2 separate regions of the Homo sapiens genome follow, and region 1 is linked to region 2. Evidence: fine-mapped expression QTL. A gene starts in region 2. The other region holds a variant in brackets. All regions are shown on one strand. Distances are between the middles of the regions. Region 1 overlaps ALG8 (ALG8 alpha-1,3-glucosyltransferase). Region 2 holds the start of KCTD21 (potassium channel tetramerization domain containing 21).

The links. PIP is the estimated chance that this variant, and not a neighbour inherited with it, causes the effect.
Region 1: its variant is fine-mapped to the expression of KCTD21 in spinal cord (GTEx, PIP 0.93).

What each region holds. Positions count from the first base shown.
Region 1 is chr11:78,107,456-78,117,800 of GRCh38, reverse strand. It overlaps ALG8 (ALG8 alpha-1,3-glucosyltransferase), which reads left to right. Exons shown (of 13, transcript NM_024079.5): 6 at 3,409-3,535; 7 at 3,812-3,915; 8 at 5,031-5,151; 9 at 8,220-8,359. Among named protein-coding and RNA genes, the nearest start is that of ALG8, 27 kb to the left of the region's middle. The variant C/T (reference allele first, on the strand shown) is at 5,290.
Region 2 is chr11:78,182,956-78,193,300 of GRCh38, reverse strand. It overlaps KCTD21 (potassium channel tetramerization domain containing 21), which reads left to right and starts at 4,675. Exons shown (of 2, transcript NM_001029859.3): 1 at 4,675-4,728. USP35 (ubiquitin specific peptidase 35) reads right to left here and starts at 4,382. Exons shown (of 11, transcript NM_020798.4): 1 at 4,144-4,382. RefSeq lists silencers at 4,029-4,188, 4,619-4,958.

The DNA.
Region 1 (10,345 bases), 76 kb after region 2:
TCCCGGTCTTTTTTTTTTCTTAAGAGTTGGAGTCTTGCTCTGTCACCCAGGCTGGAGTGCACTGGCGCAATCATGGCTCACTGCCTCCTCAAACTCCTGGGCTCAAGCAATTCTCTCACCTCAGCCTCCTGAGTCGCTAGAATTACAGGTGCACACCACCATACCTGGCTAATTTTTTTTTTTTTTTTTGGTAGAGAAGGAGGTTTCACTATGTTGTCCAGGCTGGTCTTAAACTCCTGACCACAAGTGATCCTCCCACTCTGGCCTCCCAAAGTGCTAGGATTAGAGACAGGTCTTGAACTCCTGGCCTTGAACAATCCTCCTACCTCTGCTTCTGAGTCTCTGGGATTACAGATGTGTGCCACCACACCTGGCTTACATATATCTTATTGAGTAAACTTCAGAACCATTCTGTGAAGTTGTTAGAATTATTATTCCTCCTATAGAGGAGGAAATCAGAAATTCAGATTTTGGGGCCATCCCTTTGTACATGGAATCGAAGTCTCTGGGAATGGGGCTTAAGACTCTCTAAGGAATTTTGATACACCATCAGGCTTGAGAACCATTAACTGAAGGCAAGTTATTTAACCCTCCTAGCCTCATTTTCCCCATAAAATGAAATTTACCGCTACATTCTTAGTTGTAAAATGGGGCTACTTACCTCACAGGGACATTGGAAAGATCAAATTTGATAATCTAAAGTTCTTTGTCAACTATAAATGTCTGGATAAACTTTTCTCTTTTAACCATAAAAAGCTTCATAGTAATTAGAATATAACTGGTGTTCAATGAATATTTGTTGGATGCTTATTGAACAAATAAAATTTGACTATGGAATCAGCTAGACCTTACCCAGATCTTAAATAAGTTATAAAATTGAAGAGAGACCTAGAAGCATTCCCACTCTTTTTTGTTATTACTCCTAAAGCTACCAATTCTAGACCGCACCTGATGAGAGAAGGAAACTGGCCTTTCATGGTCCCTGTGGCAGTTTCCCCTGCAGAACATCAGGACTGTTATCTCATTTAATCCTTCCGAAATTCCTGTGAGGTGGATAGATTTCAGACTTTCTTTTTTTTTGAAGACAACGTCATGCTGTGTCACCCAGGCTGGAGAATGCAGTGGTGGAGTCACAGCACACTGTAACCTCAACCTCCTGGGCTCAAACAGTCCTCCTGCCTCAGCCTCCAGTTAGCTGGGACCACAGGTGCACACCACCACTCCCGGCTAATTTTTTGTATTTTTACTAGAGACGGGGTTTCGCCATGTTAGCCAAGATGGTCTGGATCTCCTGACTTCGTGATCCACCCACTTCAGCCTCTCAAAGTGCTGGGATTACAGGTGTCAGCCACCCCACCCAGCCAAATTCTTACTATAACTTCTTAGTTATAGTAAGCTGGTTTTGTTTTGTTTGTTTGTTTGTTTGTTTTGGAGATAGCATCTTGCATTGTCACCCAGGCTGGAGTGCAGTGGCGCGATCTCAGCTCACTGCAACCTCCACCTCACTGCAACCTCCACCTCACGTGATTCTCGTGTCTCAGCCTCCCAAGTAGCTGGGATTACAGGCACCCACCACCATGCCTGGCTAATTTTTTGTATTTTTAGTAGAGACAGGGTTTCACTATGTTGGCCAGGCTGGTCTCAAACTCCTGACCTCAAGTGATCCACCCGCCTCGGTCTCCCAAAGTGCTGGGATTATAGGCATGAGCCACCACGCCTGGCCTTTGTTTGTTCTTTTTACATCAGAATACCTTTAGTTTTCCTAAGTAGTGTTTGTATCAAGTGCAGTGACTGGTGCCTTCAGCCTGATAGTGCTATATAAGTTACCTAATCTACAATATAAAATTCAATTGATTTTTTTGGTAGCATAGCATCCTATATATTTGTTCATGTTCTCATTCCCAGCCCTTCTTTGGAAATCAACTCCAGCTATTCTGAAACTGTGAGGGGTGAAGGTAATTTAATTCTCTGGGCTCTAATTCCTAAAGGAGAGTTTGCAGTATGTTATTACTGATGACATGTAGGATATGATCTCAGCATAAGGCTTAGTATGTGATAAATCTTTGTTGGAATAGTGAATTTATGAACACATTAGACTCAGTATAAAAGCTAGCTGGGCTGGTCGCAGTGGCTCATGCCTGTAATCCCAGCACTTTGGGAGGCTGAGACAGGTGGATCAGTTGAGGCCAGGAGTTTGAGACCAGCCTGGCCAACATGGTGAAACCCCATCTCTACTAAAAATACAAAAAAATTAGCCAGGCGTGGTGGTGGGCACTTGTAATCCCAGCTACTTGGGAGGCTGAGGCAGGAGAATTACTTGAACCCGGAAAGTGGAGGTTGCAGTAAACGAGACCGTGCCATTGCACTCCAGCCTGGGCAACAAGAACAAAACTCCGTCTCAAAAAAAAAGCTAGCTGGAATCACTTGCCTATGTTTTCCTTATACTGGTTATAGAATATTTACCTTGGGCCAAGCATGGCGGTTCACGCCTGTAATCCCAGCACTTTGGGAGGCCGAGGCAGGTGGATCACCTGAGGTCAGGAGTTTGAGACCAGCCTGGCCAACATGGTGAAACCCTGTCTCTACTAAAAAATACAAAAATTAGCCGGGTGTGTTGGCACACGCCTGTAGTCCCAGCTACTCGGGAGGCTGAGACAGGAGAATTGCTTGAACCGAGGAGGCGGAGGCTGCAGTGAGTCAGGATTGTGCCACTGCACTTCAGCCTGGGTAAGACAGAGGGAGACTCCATCTCAAATAAAATAAAATAAAATAAAAATTTAAAAAAGTAGGTATTGTTTATTTTTGTTATTTATTTATTCATTTTGGAGACAGGGTCTCACTCTGTCACCCAAGTTGGAGTGCAGTGTCGTCATCATGGCTCATTGCAGCCTCCACCTCCTGGGCTAAAGCAGATTCTCTCACCTCAGCCTCCAGAGTAGCTGGTGCTACAGGTGCAAGCCATCACGCCTAGCTAATTTTTTTTATTTTTTATTTTTTTGTAGAGACAGGGCCTCCCTATTTTGTCCAGGCTGGTCTTGAACTCCTGGGGTCAAGCAATCCTTCCACGTCGGCTTACCAAAGTGCTGGGATTGCAGGTGTGAGTCACCACACTTAGCCTAATTTTAGTTTTTTAAATAACCTTTTTGTAGGATAATTTTAGCTTTCCAGAAAAGTTGTAGAAATAGTACAGAGAGTTCCTATATATCCCTCACCCATTTTCCCCCATTACCACCTTACATAACCATGGTACATTCATCAAGACTAAGAAAGCAATATTGATGCATTTGAATTTCACCCGTTTTTCCTTTAATGTCCTTGTTCTGTTCCAGGATTCAATCTAGAATACCACATTATTGCATTTCATTTACCCTGAATTTTAAAGTGATATTTCCCTTTTAAATCTCCTAGAAAAGGCATATGGAAGGAGCATTTCTCTTTGCTGTTCTCCTACATTTCAAGCATATCTACCTCTATGTAGCACCAGCTTATGGTGTATATCTGCTGCGATCCTACTGTTTCACTGCAAATAAACCAGGCAAGTTTTGGTAATAATAGCAAAAACATTTTCGATTTTTCCCTTACTGTGTTGACTTGGTGGCTTGCTTGATAAGAAGGTTTTATGAAGCACAGCAGATATCTCAGCTGCTAATCCTGTAAGCCCTTTACCCATTCTCGCTTTTCTCTGCTCTTGCCACATCATGAATAGATTGGTATACTATTGTGGGATACTTCTAGTTTTAGCACATGATATAGGTTATGGTTAATGTTCCTTTCCATCTTCCTGGTTACTGATAATGTTCCTTTTCTGTAGATGGGTCTATTCGATGGAAGAGTTTCAGCTTTGTTCGTGTTATTTCCCTGGGACTGGTTGTTTTCTTAGTTTCTGCTCTTTCATTGGGTCCTTTCCTGGCCTTGGTAAGCCTTTTTTTTTTTTTTTTTCAATTAATACATGTTCTTTGTTGGTGTTTAGAAAACCTAATAAAGCCAGGAATATGTAAAATAAGTAAAAGCTACTTTTTTCTTACTCCTTACCCAACGTGACTCCCCAAAGATAGGGCAGTATTCCTTTTTTTTTTTTGTTTTTGTTTAAGATGGAGTCTCACTGTGTCGCCCAGGCTGGAATGCAGTGGCGTGATCTCGGCTCACTGCAACCTCCACCTCCTGGATTCAAGCGATTCTCCTGTCTCAGCCTCCTGAGTAGGTGGGATTACAGGCACATGCCACCATGCCTGGCTAATTTTTGTATTTTTAGTAGAGACAGGGTTTCAACATGTTGGTCAGGCTGGACTCGAACTTCTGACCTCAGGTGATCCACCTGCCTCAGCCTCCCAACGTGCTGGGATTAAAGGCATGAGCCACCGCTCTTGGCCCGATAAGGTAGTATTCTTTCAGACATTTTTGTGCACATTCAAATATGTATATATATATACATGTATATGTTTAACTGTACATTACACATACACAAACACAGAATTGATCTTCATTATTTGTGTATTCTGTACTTGTAAGTTTACTTACTTGATAAAATGTATTTGTAACAAAATCAATAATTTTGCAGTCTTACATGGACAGCAGACATTCTAAAGTGCATAGAATTTAACAGATGTTCAGATGTTTTCTTTCTTCCTCTTCTTCCCTGCCCTGAAATCAACTAATTAATTTTAATTCTTACTAAAACTGAAACGCGTCACATCTTTTGTAGTTTCCCAGCTCTCCCCTTCACCCTAGTAGACATGGATAAGCTGCAGTCTGTGTTCTGCTTTGTAGCTTGTAAATTCTTCTGTTATTATAATAGTATGGACGGGTATTCAGAGTATTTTTATGTATATTGTCCCACTGGACAGTGGACAAAGTGAGACCAAAAGAAGGTTCTGTGAACTTACATTGTGGTGAGCATATAACCACTTACTTACTAGAACCCAGACCCCATAACTTTCTACACACTATACCATAGAGAGTTCCCTAGTTCTCTTTTTGAATTTGAAAAAGATTGATGACTGTTTAATCAGTTTCATTTCTCTTTTCAACAGAATCAGCTGCCTCAAGTCTTTTCCCGACTCTTTCCTTTCAAGAGGGGCCTCTGTCATGCATATTGGGCTCCAAACTTCTGGGCTTTGTACAATGCTTTGGACAAAGTGCTGTCTGTCATCGGTATGGTAGCGAGCATTTTTTACTCAGACTCTGAATATTGAAAGGACTTAGGCACATGGAGAAATGGAAAAACCTTTGTGTTTTGAATGTGGCTGAATTGTTTGTTCTCCAGTCCTGCATTTCAGCTTTCAGGATGAA[C/T]AGGGGGAGCAGTTCTTGGGACTGAGGCTTTAGTGCAGTAAACAGACTGTTTTCCTTATAAAAGCTCCTTGTGGTAATGAGGTTATTGATCCTTTCCTGGGGAAAAAATAAAATATGTAGACACTCTATAAAGGTAATTTTTGCCTTAATTAAAAAACTATTCAGCAGCAGCAGTTAACCCTGCTTTTTTTCCCCCCTTCTCACCATTCCTATTCAAACCCCTACTTATTTTTAGAGACAGGGTCTCACTGTCACCCAGGATGGAGTGCAATGGTGTTGAGATCATAGTGCACTGCAGCCTTAAATTCCTGGGCTCAAACAGTCCTCTTGTCTCAGCCTCCTGAGTTGCTGGGACCACAGGTGCATACCACCACACCTGGCTGATTTTTAAATTTTTGTTTTTTAGAGATGAGGGTCTCACTATGTTGCCCAGAGTGGGATCAAACTTCTGGTCTCAAATGATCCTCCCACCTTGGCTTCCCAAAGTGCTGGGATTACCAGCACAAGCCACCATGCCTGGCCTACCCCACTTTTAAACCTAAACATACAAGAAAGAAGAATATGTAAGTTGTGACTCTCGGTATTAAACCAGTAAGGAAAATAACCCTGCATTTTAACATGAGGTGAGAAGAAATGAAAAACCCAGGCTATGGTTTTTAAAATTGGGTCGTAATGAAAAATAAGTTATGGTTTGAGATGGTTCTACTAAAAATAACTCACTCTGGATAACACAGTCTCTCATTTGTGAATACAATCTAGCTTGGTGGGAAAATGGCATGATCAAGAGTGGTGGTCAGCAAACTTTTTCTGTAACTGGCCAGATAATATTTTAAGCTATGCAGGCCACACACAGTGTGTGTGTGTGTATGTGTGTCTGTGTCTGTATTTGTGTATGCACACATTTGTTTAAAACCTTATAAAAGTAAAAACCATTCATACTTCAGTGCTGTGCAAAAACTGGGCACAGGCTACATTTGGCTGTTGGCCTATAGTTTGTGGACTCCAGACCTAGAGTCTGATGACTTGGTTTGGAGGCTCACCTGTGTAAATTGCTATTGCAGTGTGTGGCATTGACAAGTCATTTGCTTCCTTTCGTCTAACTTTCCTCACTATACGAAAGACATACTAGTACTTTACCTGTACCTATACAGTGTGTTGTGAGGAACAGAAGCAAAATTTAAAAAGTACTAGGTTATCAGTAGCAGAGACTTTGGAGCCAGACAAACCTGAGTTCAGTTTTACCACCTATTAGTTGTGTGACTTTGGGCAGGTTACTCCATCTCTGTACCTCAGGGGGCTAAAAGTAGTAAGTGCAGAGCCCTGGGCACATGGTAGACGCTCCATGCATGGTGGCCACTATTACTGTTTTTGATAAGTACTTGGAGGAGATCATACACTGCCTATGTGATGACTTATACATTGTGTCACCGTGTTGCTCACTGTGAATCTAGCCTTGATGTACATGGCATTCTTACAGAGTAATTCCTAACATTCATATTTCAAAAAAAGCTTTAAACAGCCAGCATAGTATGAGGTACAAGGGCCAGTTGCCTTGTCTGAGTCAGGAAGCTGTACTGTACCCTCACTTGTATGTTTGTGTCTTTGAAGATGTTTTACATGGAAAGTCAGTGTCAGAGTTAGACAACTTTGTTTTAGGGAGATAGTTATTAGCTGTAAGAGAGAATCAGCAGGCCAAAGGGGAAAGGGGAAGAGGTTAGTAAGTAGAAAATATTTTGGTACATCTTTCCCACATTGTATTCATTTTCACTGGCATTTGACAGGCCCTATAGGTGCTCAAACTGTCTCTGACTGTCCTATTAGCCAGAGCTTGTTGGGGCTTGTATTGTCATTCTCTGAATTGATTTATTTAATAACCAAGTATTTATTGAGCTCCTATGTACTGGGGATAGAAATGAACTCATCATCATTCCTGCCTTCAAGGAATACAGTATAGTAGAGGAAATGAGCACATAAACAAGTGCAGTGCCTTGTGGTGAACACTGTTAGAGTGAGCTCACTCAGCTGTGCACGTTGGCTCAGGCCTGTAATCCTAGCACTTTGGGAGGCTGAGATGGGCGGATCACCTGAAGTCAGGAGCTCGAGACCAGCCTGGCCAACATGGTGACACCCCGTCTCTACTAAAAATACAAAAATTAGCCGGGCATGGTGGCACATGCCTGTAATCCCAGTTAATGGGGAGGCTGAGGCAGGAGAATCGCTGGAACCTGGAACCTGGGAGGCAGAGGCTGCAGTGAGCTGAGATTGCGCCACTGCATTCCAGCCTCTGTCTCTGGGTGACAGAGTAAGACTCCATCTCAAAAAAAAAAAGTGAGCTCACAAGAAAATCAGTTCTGCTTATTGATTTAGGAGCTTTCTCAGGTGATTGAATTAGAAGTTAATTTGGCAAAGGGAGTTGCCTGGGCAGAGGGACACAGGTGTTGAGAGTGGTATATTGAGGACTCACAGTTACTTCATTGTGGCCAAGCCGCATTTAACAAAGTAAAGATGAGATTGAACAGGGGGGAAGGGGCGATGAGATCATGGAAGACACTGGATACTATGTTTAGGAATAGAGGGTTTCTCCCATAGGAGATGAAGGATTCAAAGTTCCTTCATGACATGCTCAGACTGTTCTAGAAGCTTGCTTTCAGAGGTGAGAGCAGATTACCATTTGTGCTGCCTGCCAGCAAGTTTCCTATAAGCTGCACAAATTCCCTGTTCCAATGCAAAGAGCTGCTTTATATATTATAATCTTAAGACCAGAGGCATTTTGGGTAGAATAGTATAGGATTAAATTCATGAAATCTTAGCCTTTAAGCAGCAATAAGATTTAGTAGCTTACTTTTTATTCCTCAAGGAATTGATTGTTAATATATGGTATCTCAGTAATAAAGATAAAAATAAAACAAAACAAAATATCTGTTTAATAGGTTTGAAATTGAAATTTCTTGATCCCAACAATATTCCCAAGGCCTCAATGACAAGTGGTTTGGTTCAGCAGTTCCAACACACAGTCCTTCCCTCAGTGACTCCCTTGGCAACCCTCATCTGCACACTGATTGCCATATTGGTAAGAACTCAACAGATGGTGCTCATTTCTTGAGTTTTCTCTGCTTTTCTTTTGTCTGGCTGATTAAATTTCAACTTTCAAGCTCTTCCAACTGTAGGATAAATTTCATGCCTGTAATCCTTCTGCAGATTGAAGCATTTCCTAGCAATTCTTAGAGTAACTTTGAATACCATAAGGAAGGATTACCAGTAAAGCCTTTGTGAGAGATTCTTGCCAGTGGCTGTTAGACCATCTGTTCACCCGGGGGAAGGGAAAAAGAAAAGCCCAGAGAGGAAGAGGCATGGATCATGCTGCAGAGAAAGAAGGAAATGTTTGTGGCAGGGACATCCAGATTTGGTTTGTTTTTCTCACCGTTAGCTAAATCATCAAAATTCCAAATGTATCTGGACAGCGTGGATGTTTTGTCTTGATGGTGATAATGAGTTGAGAGAGTCGACAAAGGCTTTTTGAGCCTAAGATGAGCCTAATATGAGTAAGATGCTCTTAGAGGCCTCATTCTAAGTACTTTAGAAACTTTAATTTCTAAAATTTCATTAGTGATTGCAGTGACCTCAATTTCATGGTATAATTTTAGTAGAATTCAATATAAACAACTCAATCCTATCGATAATTACACTCATCTTTAATTTTGGTTTCTGAATGTTTCAAACCTGCTAGCAACCACCTGATTCCACTTAATTACATGACAGTACAGGTATGTAGATAATTAAGCTCTGTTGGGCTGTTTGTTCACATATTTTAATTGAGGTAAAACATTTTTCCTAAAATTTCAGCCTTATGAGGTACATATAGTTTCTATGGCCTTCCAGCCAATAAAACTAAGTATTTATTAATATGGTAAATCTAATTTATTGGCTCAAAAGCATCTATGGACTTCTGTAGTTTGACCTATTAGGTTCATTAATAAATGAACTATTAGTAAACTAATTATGAAGATGTAATAAGTTGTTAGACTGTACATCCCAGAACTTAATTATTAATTTTGATAGTATAATTAATTTCTTTTTTTTTTGAGACAGAGTCTCACTCCGTCATCCAGGCTGGAGTGCAGTGGCGATTCTCCTGCCTCAGCCTCCCAAGTAGCTGGGATTACAGGCGCCTGCCACTGCACCCAGCTAATTGTTTTGCAGTAGTTTTGTTTTTGTTTTTGTTTTTGTTTTTTGAGACGGGAGTCTTGTTCTGTTGCCAGGCTGGAGTGTAGTGGTACGATCTCAGCTCACTGCAACCCCCACCTCCTGGGTTCAAGCGATTCCCCTGCTTCAGCCTCCTGAGTAGCTGGAACTACAGGCATGCACCACCACGCCCGGCTAATTTTTTTTGTATTTTAGTAGAGACAGGGTTTCACCATGTTGTCCAGGATGGTCTCGATCTCCTGACCTCGTGATCCGCCCACCTCGGCCTCCCAAAGTGCTGGGATTATAGGCCTGAGCCACCACACCCGGCCTTTTTTGTAGTTTTTAGTAGAGACAGGGTTTCACCATCTTGGCCAGGCTGGTCTTGAACTCCTGACCTCGTAATCGACTTGCATCAGCCTCCCAAAGTTCTGGGATTACAGGCGTGAGTCACTAGGCCCGGCCAATTTTTTTTTTTTTTTTTTTTTTTGAGACAGTCTCGGTCTGTCACCTAGGCTGGAGTGCAGTGGCGCAATTTCAGCTCACTGCAACCTCTGCCTCCCAGGTTCAAGCGATTCTCCTGCCTCAGCCTCCAGAGTACCTGGGAATACAGGTATGTACCACCACGCCCAGCTAGTTTTTTTTGTATTTTTAGTAGAGATGGGGTTTCACTATGTTGGTCAGGCTGTTCTTGAACTCCTAACCTCAAGTGATCTGCCTGCCTTGGCCTCCCAAAGTGCTGGGATTATAGGCATGAGCCACCATGCCCAGCCAGTAGAATTAATTTTAATGAGTTAAATATATACATCAAGGCTAGGTGCGGTGGCTCAAACCTGTAATCCCAGCACTTTGGGAGGCCAAGGCAGGCAGATCA
Region 2 (10,345 bases):
GCTCACTTGAGCTTGGGAGGCGAAGGTTGCAGTGAGCTGAGATCACGCCACTGCACTCCAGCCTGGGTGACTAAGTGAGTTCCTGTTTCAAAAAAGAAAAAAGAAAAAAAATTTTTTTAACTCTCCCTTCAGCCCTGGTCCCCTTTCTAGGCAGTGCCCGTGACAAGGCAGTTGCTGTGGCCAACCTCCCCCACACAAACAGTCCATCCTCCCAGACCCCTGGGATGGCTAGTGGATTTCATATGCTTTCAACCCAGGATGCCAAGAAATCCTGGTACTCAGGCAGCCAAGAAGAAACCCTAATCCATGAGGCACTGGCATCATGTGTGAAGCAAGAGGGCATGGGGGCAGGCAGAAATGGAGTTCTGGAGACAGGGAAGACTCTGGTAGTAGAAAGAGTACTAGAAAGAGTAGAAAGAGTATCAGACTAGGAATGAGGAGTCCTACATTCTAGCCCTGACTCATTGTGTGACCCTCAGTAAATCATACCCATGAGCCTCTTTTCTGTAAAATGGGGACAAATGCTATTAGACTGAACCGCATGAAACCGAATGATCAAATGTTGGCAATTTCATGTTGTTCTACCTAACACCACATAAGCCTGGCAGCTGACAGTTCAAATAGAGCTGCTCCATGAGAGCTCTGATCTCCAAGGCCAGCCGGCAGCCTCTGCTCAGTCCGTAGCCTGGCCACAGCAAGCAAGCCCTGCCCACCTGCCCCAACTCCCACGCAGGCAGTCTGAGGACAGCTGTCACCATGGTCACCAGCAAACCCACTCAATATCTTGCATGCACTCAGACAAAAGGGTTTTAGAGGCTTGCACCTCACCTGGCCCCATCAGGCCAGGGAAGGGAGGACAAGGCCAGCTATCCCACTGGCAGGAATGAAGAAAGTGAGGCTCAGAGAGAGGAACATGGCCTTGGCAAAGCAGGATTAGAACCTGCACTCTGCCTCCCTCAGGAGGGCTGGATTAGCCTGCTAAGCCCCGGGTGAGGAGATGGCCTGTCCATGCTGGCTCTGACTCAAGAGACAGCTGCCCCGCACCAACCGCAGCAGCAAACAGCAGCCATGTCCTCCCCGAGGAGAGCCTGTGTTAAAAGCTGAAGATACAGGTTTTCTGCTTCAAAGTCATGGTGACCTTGGGTGAGCCCCTGCCTGGCTTCTTAGCCTTCTCATCTGGAAAATGGGGACTATTCCAAGCCTACCATTCACAGGGTTGAGACAAGGTATAAAAAAGATGAGGTCCTCATTAACACGGTGAAACCCCATCTCTACTAAAAATACAAAAAATTAGCCGGGCGTGGTGGCGGGCACCTGTAGTCCCAGCTACTCAGGAGGCTGAGGCAGGAGAATGGCGTGAACCCAGGAGGCGGAGCTTGCAGTGAGCCGAGATCATGCCACTGCACTCCAGCCTGGGGGACAGAGCAAGACTCCGTCTCAAAAAAAAAAAAAAAAAAAAGATGAGGGCCGGGCTGTCATGAGTCTATTTTTGGGCCACCTGGCACTGATGGGAGACACAGATACTGTCAGGGAAAGGAGACAAGGAGACACGCACTGCTGATCCTGCTGATTCTCCAAGGCATTTCCTCCATTAGCCCTCCCTGCCACTTCGGTGTTCCCAGCCCCACCCAGGATCAGACCCCTTGACTTCTTGCCTGGACTAGTGCAGTAGCCTCCTAACCCATCTCCCAATTCCCTCCCTCAATCCATCCTCCAACAGAGGCATGTGTCCTAGAGGAGAACAGAGTCCAGGCTTCGAGTCTAGCCCAGCCACCATGGAGGTAGGTGTTCTTTTACCTCTGTGATCCTCGGAATGCCCAAATAGAAGGTGACTACGTGCCCACCCCTTAGCCTTTCCCAGCCAGCGCTGCTGCTCCTCCCAAGCCCTTGCCTCATACCCCTCGCCCTACTGGCATGACAGCCTGAGGGGCGTCCCAGCAACACCAGCACACTCCAAGGCACGCAGTGAGCACTCAGGAAAATCCCAATCCCTCTGCCAAAAGGCCCAGATCCTTTCACCTGTTCCTCTCGGATGACCCTCAACATTTCTGCCGAGTGTTGACTGATCTCTGCTCCTGCACAGTTGAGCCTGACTTATCTCCATCACCCCAAAGCACCCTGTGTGTGTGTGTGTATGTGTGTGTACACAACTCCTATGCTCAGCCCCACTGCCACGCCCTGGGCCCCCGCTCAAGCTTCATCATCCCTCCTTGGTCTCTCCAGATGCAGCATCGTCAGATGGAGCTTATTACACGGTAAGCACCATTCCGTCCATGCCCCTGCTCAGAACTCTCAACACTCTCCAGCCCCTTGGACCCAGAATAAGGTCCAAACTCCTGAGCCGGACATGCAAGCCCTTTCTGTGACACTCAGCTGATGTGGGGCAGGGGTGGAGATGAACTCAAGCAACATTGTTCAGTGGAGACTCTGCAGACATTGGAGCAGGGGGCTTTTTCCTGACTGCTACTTTGCACAATGTCCCCTCTACTGAAAAAGGGCTTTTCCCTCTTCTCTCCTGGAAAATTCTGACTCACCCTTCAATGCCCAGCTCACATGCCCTCTCCTCTGGGAAGCCTTTCCTTTTCCCTCCACAATTCAAGTGTCTAAAGTTCTGGCCTCCAAGGCCCTCTTAGCTATTCTCATCCCTCTGCAGCATAACTGGAATCCATGTCTCTGTCTCCCACCAGGCTGGGACCTCCCTTGGCAGAGGTCCAATCCCCGTCTCTGAGCCCAGTGCCCAGTACAGAACCAAGGACTGAGGTGTCCGTGAAGGTGCGTCAAGCAACTCATGAGAGACATGTGACAGCAAGATGAGAGAAAACCAAAGATGTAACCACAAAAGTACCTTCCAGAAACTGGCCTAACCTTTGGTCCAGTCACCACCCCCTCCTTTGCCCAGGCCTGGTCTTGCATATCAAAAACCCTGAAAATCTTAAACATCAGTCAAGAAAGCCCCTACAGAGGTCACTGGACTGGACTGAGGCTTTAGCCATTCTAGAAATTGTTCAAACAACCAAAGCAAAAGAAAAAGCACAAAACAAAAACAAAACAAAACAAAACAAAAATCTGTTCCTGGTTAGCCTTCAGGTCAAAAGCTCACAGAATCTCCTAGGACCTGAGAAGAAGGCTTCATGGTGTTACTCAACCTCTCCCTGCTCCAGGTCAGAGCAGCCCCTCCCAGCCTCTGCTCAGCACCTAAGAGCTGAGGAGCACATTTCCTCCCCTCTCTGACCCTCGAAGCCAGCCTCCCTCCTTTGACTCCCCTGGGAGCCAGAGCTTCCTTGGGGGTACCAGGCTGCCCCTCCCGACACCAGGTGGTGCCCTCCATCTCTGGCCCCTCAGGTGTCTGAATGGCAGCATCTCTCTAGGTATTTTTTAACTGAACTTCTACCCAAGGCAACCCTGGGAAGAAGTGCTTCACCCTACTCCGGGAGGCCCATGTCTGGGCCACCAAACTGTCTCCTGGAAAGAAAAAGAAAAAAGGGTTTCACTGGTAAAAAGCAGCTGCTCTTCCTCAAAGGATAAGGAGGAGAGAGAAGGGAAGAAAGCAGGAGCAGCTATTCCTCCTCAGGAACCCACCACACACACCTATCCCTGCGGGGCCACCCCTCACAAACCTGTGAGGGCCGCACTCCACCCCAAGCTTTCTGGAAGGAAGGGCACCAAGCTGACACATCAGGGTCTCCGGTTTGCAAGGGCCAGGGCCGTAAGAGGGGGTTGGGGAGGGTATCCCAGGGCCCAGCACACTGAGAATAGGAAAAGCCCATTCCAAGCAATGGTGGCCTCGGGCCCCCCAGTTTGTGCCACCTCCCTCCCTCCAGTGCACCCGCGCCCAGCCCACGCTTGAGCTGGAGGGCCCCACGAAAAGCCAGCAAGCGAATGTACTAGGTACTGGGTGCGAATGCCCTCTTACCTGAAAGGGGAGGGAGCAGGATCACTTCGACATACAATTGATGAAGGGAGGGGATTAATGCCCAGAGAGGAATAGCTACTCGCCCAAGGTCACACAGTGAGGCCCAGGAGGCCCAGGATGCACCCAGATCTCCCGACTCCCAGCCCTGGGCTCGCAAGTCCAGGGTTCTCGAAAGGCCAGGGTGCAGACACCGCCCCCCAAAGACAGTCACACGCCCCCAACCCCCTTACCTCCCGGACCCCGGTGGGCCAGAGCCGGCTGCTGGGCGGGGCGCTCAGGCCGGGCAGGACGAGGCTGGGCCCGGCTAGGTCAGGGCTGGTCCTCTGCTCCCCCCAGGGTGGGGACGCCCTCAGCCAGGTCCCAGACGGAAGAGATGCTGCTTCCACTGCAAAATCCAGTCTTCCCACCCCGCCTGGCACAAGCCTCTATGTATCCAGGAAGCCCGACTCTGCGGCGCGGCCCCGGGGCTGCGGGATGAAGCATGGGGAGGGGCGAGGTGCGTGAAATGGGGCGGAGCCGGAGCGGGGGCCACCCCGCGAGCTGCCACTCTGACCGCGTCCCCTTTAAGGCCAGCCGGCCGGACACCGGCGGGGACGAGGCGGGGCGCAGAGCAACTCGCTGCAATGCCTCCTGGGAGATGGAGTTCGCTCTCGACGCGCCGAGCTGCGAGGAGCCCAGAGAGAACTACCAGTCCCGGAAGGCAGCGCACAGACCCCGGACCGCCACGCCCCTGGGCTGGGCTCCTACCCTCCGCCCCCCTCGCAAAGCTGCGCTGGCCGCTCGCGGAGGGAGAGGCTGCAGAGCGAGGGCAGGAGGTGGGTGCGGCACGGCCGGGGTCGCGGGGCTCGGGGACTACCGGCGAGGGTACGTGGGCCCACTGAGCACCTGTCTTACCATGAGACTAATCTATCCCAGCCTCGCCATTCCCATCTGTGAAATGGGGATGGCATCGCCTGTGGTGCGGGGGAGGGGGCGCGTTTCGGAGCGAGGTGAGCCGAAGTGGGCAGAGCTCTTAGAGGGGCGGGGCTGTTGGGAGAGCAAGGGCGGATGGTGATAGTCGGAAAAGCCCGGATAATGAGGGTCGGGACTGTGGGAGGAGTCCTTGGTGGGTGGGGCAAGGAGAGGCGGGATCTCTAGGTGGGGGTGGGGCACTTGTCAGGTCGGAGTGGGGGCTGTAGGGCTGGGGAGTGGGTGCGGAACAAGCCGATGAGGCCAGCCTGGGTGAGATTGGGGAAGGAAGGGCGGAGACACAGATGACAGGGAACTTGCCCCGCTCTGGAGAGCCCTGGGCCGGCCGCGCTGTGGCGGCGTGGGCAAAAGCCTGTGATGCATAGAACACCTCCCTTTACTGACTGGAAATAAAGAGTCCATCCCCGAGTTCAGTGCGGCACACCAGTGATCTCATTGACCTCCCACGCCCTGAAAAGTAGAGGCGTCACTATAGCGGTTGACAGGTGAGGAATGTGAGGCTCAGAAAAGCGAAGGGACTTGCCTAAAACCACTCAGGACTCCTTACTTCAAAGACCTTGCTTTTCTCCCTGCACTCGGGGAGGCAGAGGTTTAGCTTGGCGTGGGAGGCAGGAAAGAAAAGTTTTGATGCCCCGACCTTCGCAAATTGTCTGGCAGGACCAGTCCCCCCAACCCTTCCGAATGACAGCCTGTAAGGCAGCCCTCCTATAGTACTGTGAGGATGAAATGAGATGGATTTGAAAGCACGGTGTTTATAAATTACTGTTTGGAGGAGACATAGGAAGAGAGCGGTTTGAAATGGGGTGCTGGTGCCGGAGGAAAAGCACAAGGTGAAGCGTGAGAGTGAGCCGAGAAGGTGAAGGAAAGTTCTGGAAGGGGCTGGGGGATGGTAGTGGTTGTTGGAGGTCTACGCCAGATGAAAGAATACCTTGCCGTGCCAGATTCCGTGGTCTCCTTCTTCCAGCCCACCTTTCTCTCCTCCTGCCTTTTGCGCAGCTCATTCTGGGGTCCCTGTGTCTAGGAAGCACCTTTTCTCTCCTCCCTATGGGTTGTGATGGTAATAGAGCAGCCTTCGGATTTCTTAGAGATATGGACTGGGCAAGACAGAATTATAGACGCAGCTCTTTGATGTGGGGTGGTCAGGAAGAGGAGGTGAAGAAAGGGTAGTCGTCCTAGGGGCTTCAAGGCAAAGAGTCCTTTCTCCGGTGGGGTAAGGTGGGGAAGTCTCCCACTTACTGGAAAACACAGTACTCACTCTGAGCATTGTCTTTTTTGAAATTTACCCAGCCACGTGCTGTCCATTCCCTTACGCAGTGGAAACTCTCCTTGCATTTACTCCCAAGTAATCACCTCGGCCTTGTCACATCCCTTTAGATTCCAGATTGAAAATTGAACAGAGCATTTCAAAATTAAAAAGTTTTGAAAATCCAGGTGGGGAAAATGGATCTGACTAAACAGGAGAGAAATTTCTTCCTCTTCCCCTATTCTACGTGCTTCTGTGGATATAGAAAGGGGCACCCCCAGCCCCAGCAAGGGAGCCAGGCATCCATCTACTTAAGTAAAGTTGGCTGTGGTAAGGGGTTAGACTAAAATTCTCCGCAGATGCAGAGGAGAAGGAATGAATTCCAGCTGAGAGACCTGGCCGATGCATGGGATTTGTCTTCAAGGTCCAGGCAGAGGGGATGGCAGATGCCAAATTGCAGAAGTCGAAGAGGGCCCAGTATGGTTGGTCTGTAAAGTAGGTATATAATAGTATCTACTTAATCTGTGAGATTGAAAGAGATTAACATGTATAGAGTGCCTAGCACGGTAGTAACTGCTCAATAAACGTTAGCCATTATTATTGCCGTTGTAGTGTTTGTTGTTGTTATGATCATCATCATCTGCCCAGGAACGTGCCCAGGGCTGCACAGCTAGTAAGTGGCAGGGGATGATTCAAATGCAAACCCAGGTAATGCCGAATACCATGCATGGTCTGCCCCTACCCCACACAGCCTCTCCAGTTCTTTTCTTTTTTTTTTTTTTTTTTTTTTTTTTTTTTTTTTTTGAGACAGGGTCTTACTCTGTTGCCCAAGCTGGAGTGCAGTGGCGTGATCTCGGCTTGCTGCAGCCTGACCTCCCAGGCTCAAGCGATCCTCCTACCTCAGCCTGTGCAGCTGGGACTGCAAGCACGTGTTACCATGCCCAGCTAATTTTTTTTTTTCTCTATAGAAACGAGGTCTCATTATGTTGTCCAGGTGGTCTCAAACTCCTGAACTCAAGCGATCCTCCCACCTGGGCCTTCCAAGTGCTGGGATTACAGGCATGAGCCACTGAGCCTGGCCTGTCTCCAGTTCTTTCTGCCCATCCTTGACATTTCTGAGGCCCAGGAGTGGCCTCTCTTTGTCAACATTCACAGTGAGTCATGACAGGAGTTTCTTTCCTGCCGAGTTACAGAGATTCTGGGTTCATGATGAGGCAGGAAAAACAAGGCCTGAACAGCCATCTTCTTCCAGGCAGAATCACAGCACAGAAGATAGGCAGACCTGGCCGGGCGCGGTGGCTCACGCCTGTAATCCCAGCACTTTGGGAGGCTGAGGTGGGTGGATCATTTGAGGTCAGGAGCTTGAGACCAGCCTGGCCAACGTGGTGAAACCCCGTCTCTACTAAAAATACAAAAATTAGCCGGGCATGGTGGCACGCACCTGAAATCCCAGCTACTCAGGAGGCTGAGGCAGGAGAATCACTTGAACCTGGGAGGCAGAGGTCGCAGTGAGCCAGGATCACGCCACTGCACTCCAAACTGGGTGACAGAGCGAGACTCTATCTCAAAAAAAAAAAATAGGCCTAGTGGTGTGGTTTCTGTGGGTGGTGGCTCTATCCAGACTGCCCACCCAGGCTTAGATTCTAACTCCTCCACCACTTAGCCCTGGTTGGCATCCTCACCCTTCAAAATTCAGAAACACTTGGGAAGGAAAATTATGAGCTTTTCACACTTCTAAGTAGTAGTAGTAAATCTGTAACTTACTAAATCTGGCGACTTATTGGGGTCTGGCACAATGACTGTAACTTTACATCTATTGGCCCTATGAAGAAGTGTTCTTCCCCCCTCTTTTAAAATACAAATATTTTTAAAATTTTCAAGCTTACATAAAAGCTTAAAGTACAACCCTTAACCTAGATACGCCAAATCACAATTTGCCAATTGTGCTTTTACACAAACACACACTTTTTTGGCCCAATTATTTAAAAGTAAGTTACAGATATGTTGATTGACGTTTGACCCCTAAATTCTTCAACATGTATCCCCTAATAAGGGCGTTCTACTACATAGCCATAATACATTATATGTAATAAGCAAGAAGTCAGTATTACCCAATGTAATAGTTATTCAAAATTTTCTGCCAGGTGCAATGGGTCATGTCTATAACCCCAGCACTTTGGGAAGCAAAGGCAGACAGATTGCTTGAGCCCAGGAGTTCAAGGCCAGCCTGGGCAACATAGTGAAACCCCATCTCTACAAAAACTACAAAATTTAGCATGGTGTGGTAGCGTGCACCTGTAGTCCCAGCTACTTGGGAAAATCACCTGAGCCTGGGGATGTCAAGGCTGCAGTGAACCATGATCGCGCCACTGCACTCCAGCCTGGGCGACAGAGTGAGACCCTGTCTCAAGAAAAAAAAAATTCTAATTGCCCAAAAATACCTTATATAGTTTCTGGTTTTTAAAATCAGATCCAGTCAAGATGTACATATTGCATCCTATTATATCTCTTTTATCAACTCATTTAATCTAAATAGAGCCCCTTGGCATGGTAGCTCATGTCTGTAATCCCAACATTTTGGGAGGCTGAGGTGGGCAGATCACTTGAGGTCAGGAGTTCGAGACCAGCCTGGCCAACATGGTGATACCCCATCTCAAGTAAAAATACAAAAATTAGCCGGACATGGTGGTGTGTGCCTATACTCCCAGCTACTCAGGAGGCTGAGGCAAGAGAATTGCTTGAACTCAGGAGGTGGAGGTTGCAGTGAGCCGAGATTGTGCCACTGCACTCCAGCCTGGGCAACAGAGTGTGACTCTATCTCAAATAAATAAATAAATAAATAAATAGAGCTTCTCCACCTATTTAAATATGTTTGATTGGTTTATCAATGATTAGATTGGGGTTAGATTTAAGTTTTTGGCAATGTGTGTACTTACTGCATGTCAGGAGGATATGATGTCAGGGTCTTACTATCCATGAATGCTAAATTTGATTATTAAGGTCATGGCAACCTGATCTCTCTATCGTAAAGGTAAATTTTTCTCTCTTACAATTAATAAGTAATCTGTGAAGTGATTCTCTGAGTCTGTTATAATTATGTGTTCCTGATAACCTTTCACACCACATCCTTGGATGATCCTTGCTTGAATTACAACACTGAGGGTTGCAAATTGGTAATTTTCTAATTCTGCCATTCCTTCTGTGTTTATTAGTGTTCTTTTTTATAGAATTAATTTTTCCTGGCCGGGTGCGGTGGCTCACGCCTGTAATCCCAGCACTTTGGGAGGCCGAGGCGGGCGGATCACGAGGTCAGGAGATCGAGACCATCCTGGCTAACAAGGTGAAACCCTGTCTCCACTAAAAATACAAAAAATTAGCCGAGCGAGGTGGCGGGCGCCTGTAGTCTCAGCTACTCGGGAGGCTGAGGCAGGAGAATGGCGTGAACCCTGGGAGGCGGAGGTTGCAGTGAGCCGAAATCACACCACTGCACTCCAGCCTGGGCGACAGTGAGACTCCGTCTCAAAAAAAAAAAAAAAGAATTAATTTTTCCTGTCTCTATCTTTCTCACTCCCTTCTTCTCACCCTCTTTTTTCTTTTGGGAATAACATTATGGACTCTTGTTTTTTGTTTGTTTGTTTTTGAGATGGAGTCTCACTCTGTTGCCCTGGCTGGTGTGCAGTGGCACGATCTTGGCTCACTGCAACCTCCACTTCCCAGATTCAAGCGATTCTCCTGCCTCAGCCTCCCAAGTAGCTGGAATAACAGGCGCACGCCACCCCGCCCAGCTATTTTTTGTATTTTTAGTAGAGATGGGGTTTTGCCATGTTAGCCAGGCTGGTCTTGAACTCCAGACCTCAGGTGATCCGCCCGCCTCGGCCTCCCAAAGTGCTGAGATTACAGGCATGAACTACCGCACCCAGCCTGGACTCTTGTTTTGTTGTTGTTGTTTTTTAATTCACTGGGCTATATGAACTCACCTTGAACTTTTCCTGTGAAAGTCCAGGAATCATCAGTTTCTCCAGGAAGCCCTGGTTTCTTTTAGAAGAGATGATGACATTCAGAAACAAAGATCCAGGGCTAGGTGTGTTTATTGCTACTGGGTGTCATTTCTAGGCTCTGTGAGTGAGCAGAGCTAGGAAATGATGGATAGGTGATTGATAGATAGATGATAGATGGACAATTTTCATTACTCAGTACATTTATTGTTACAACAGCTAGTC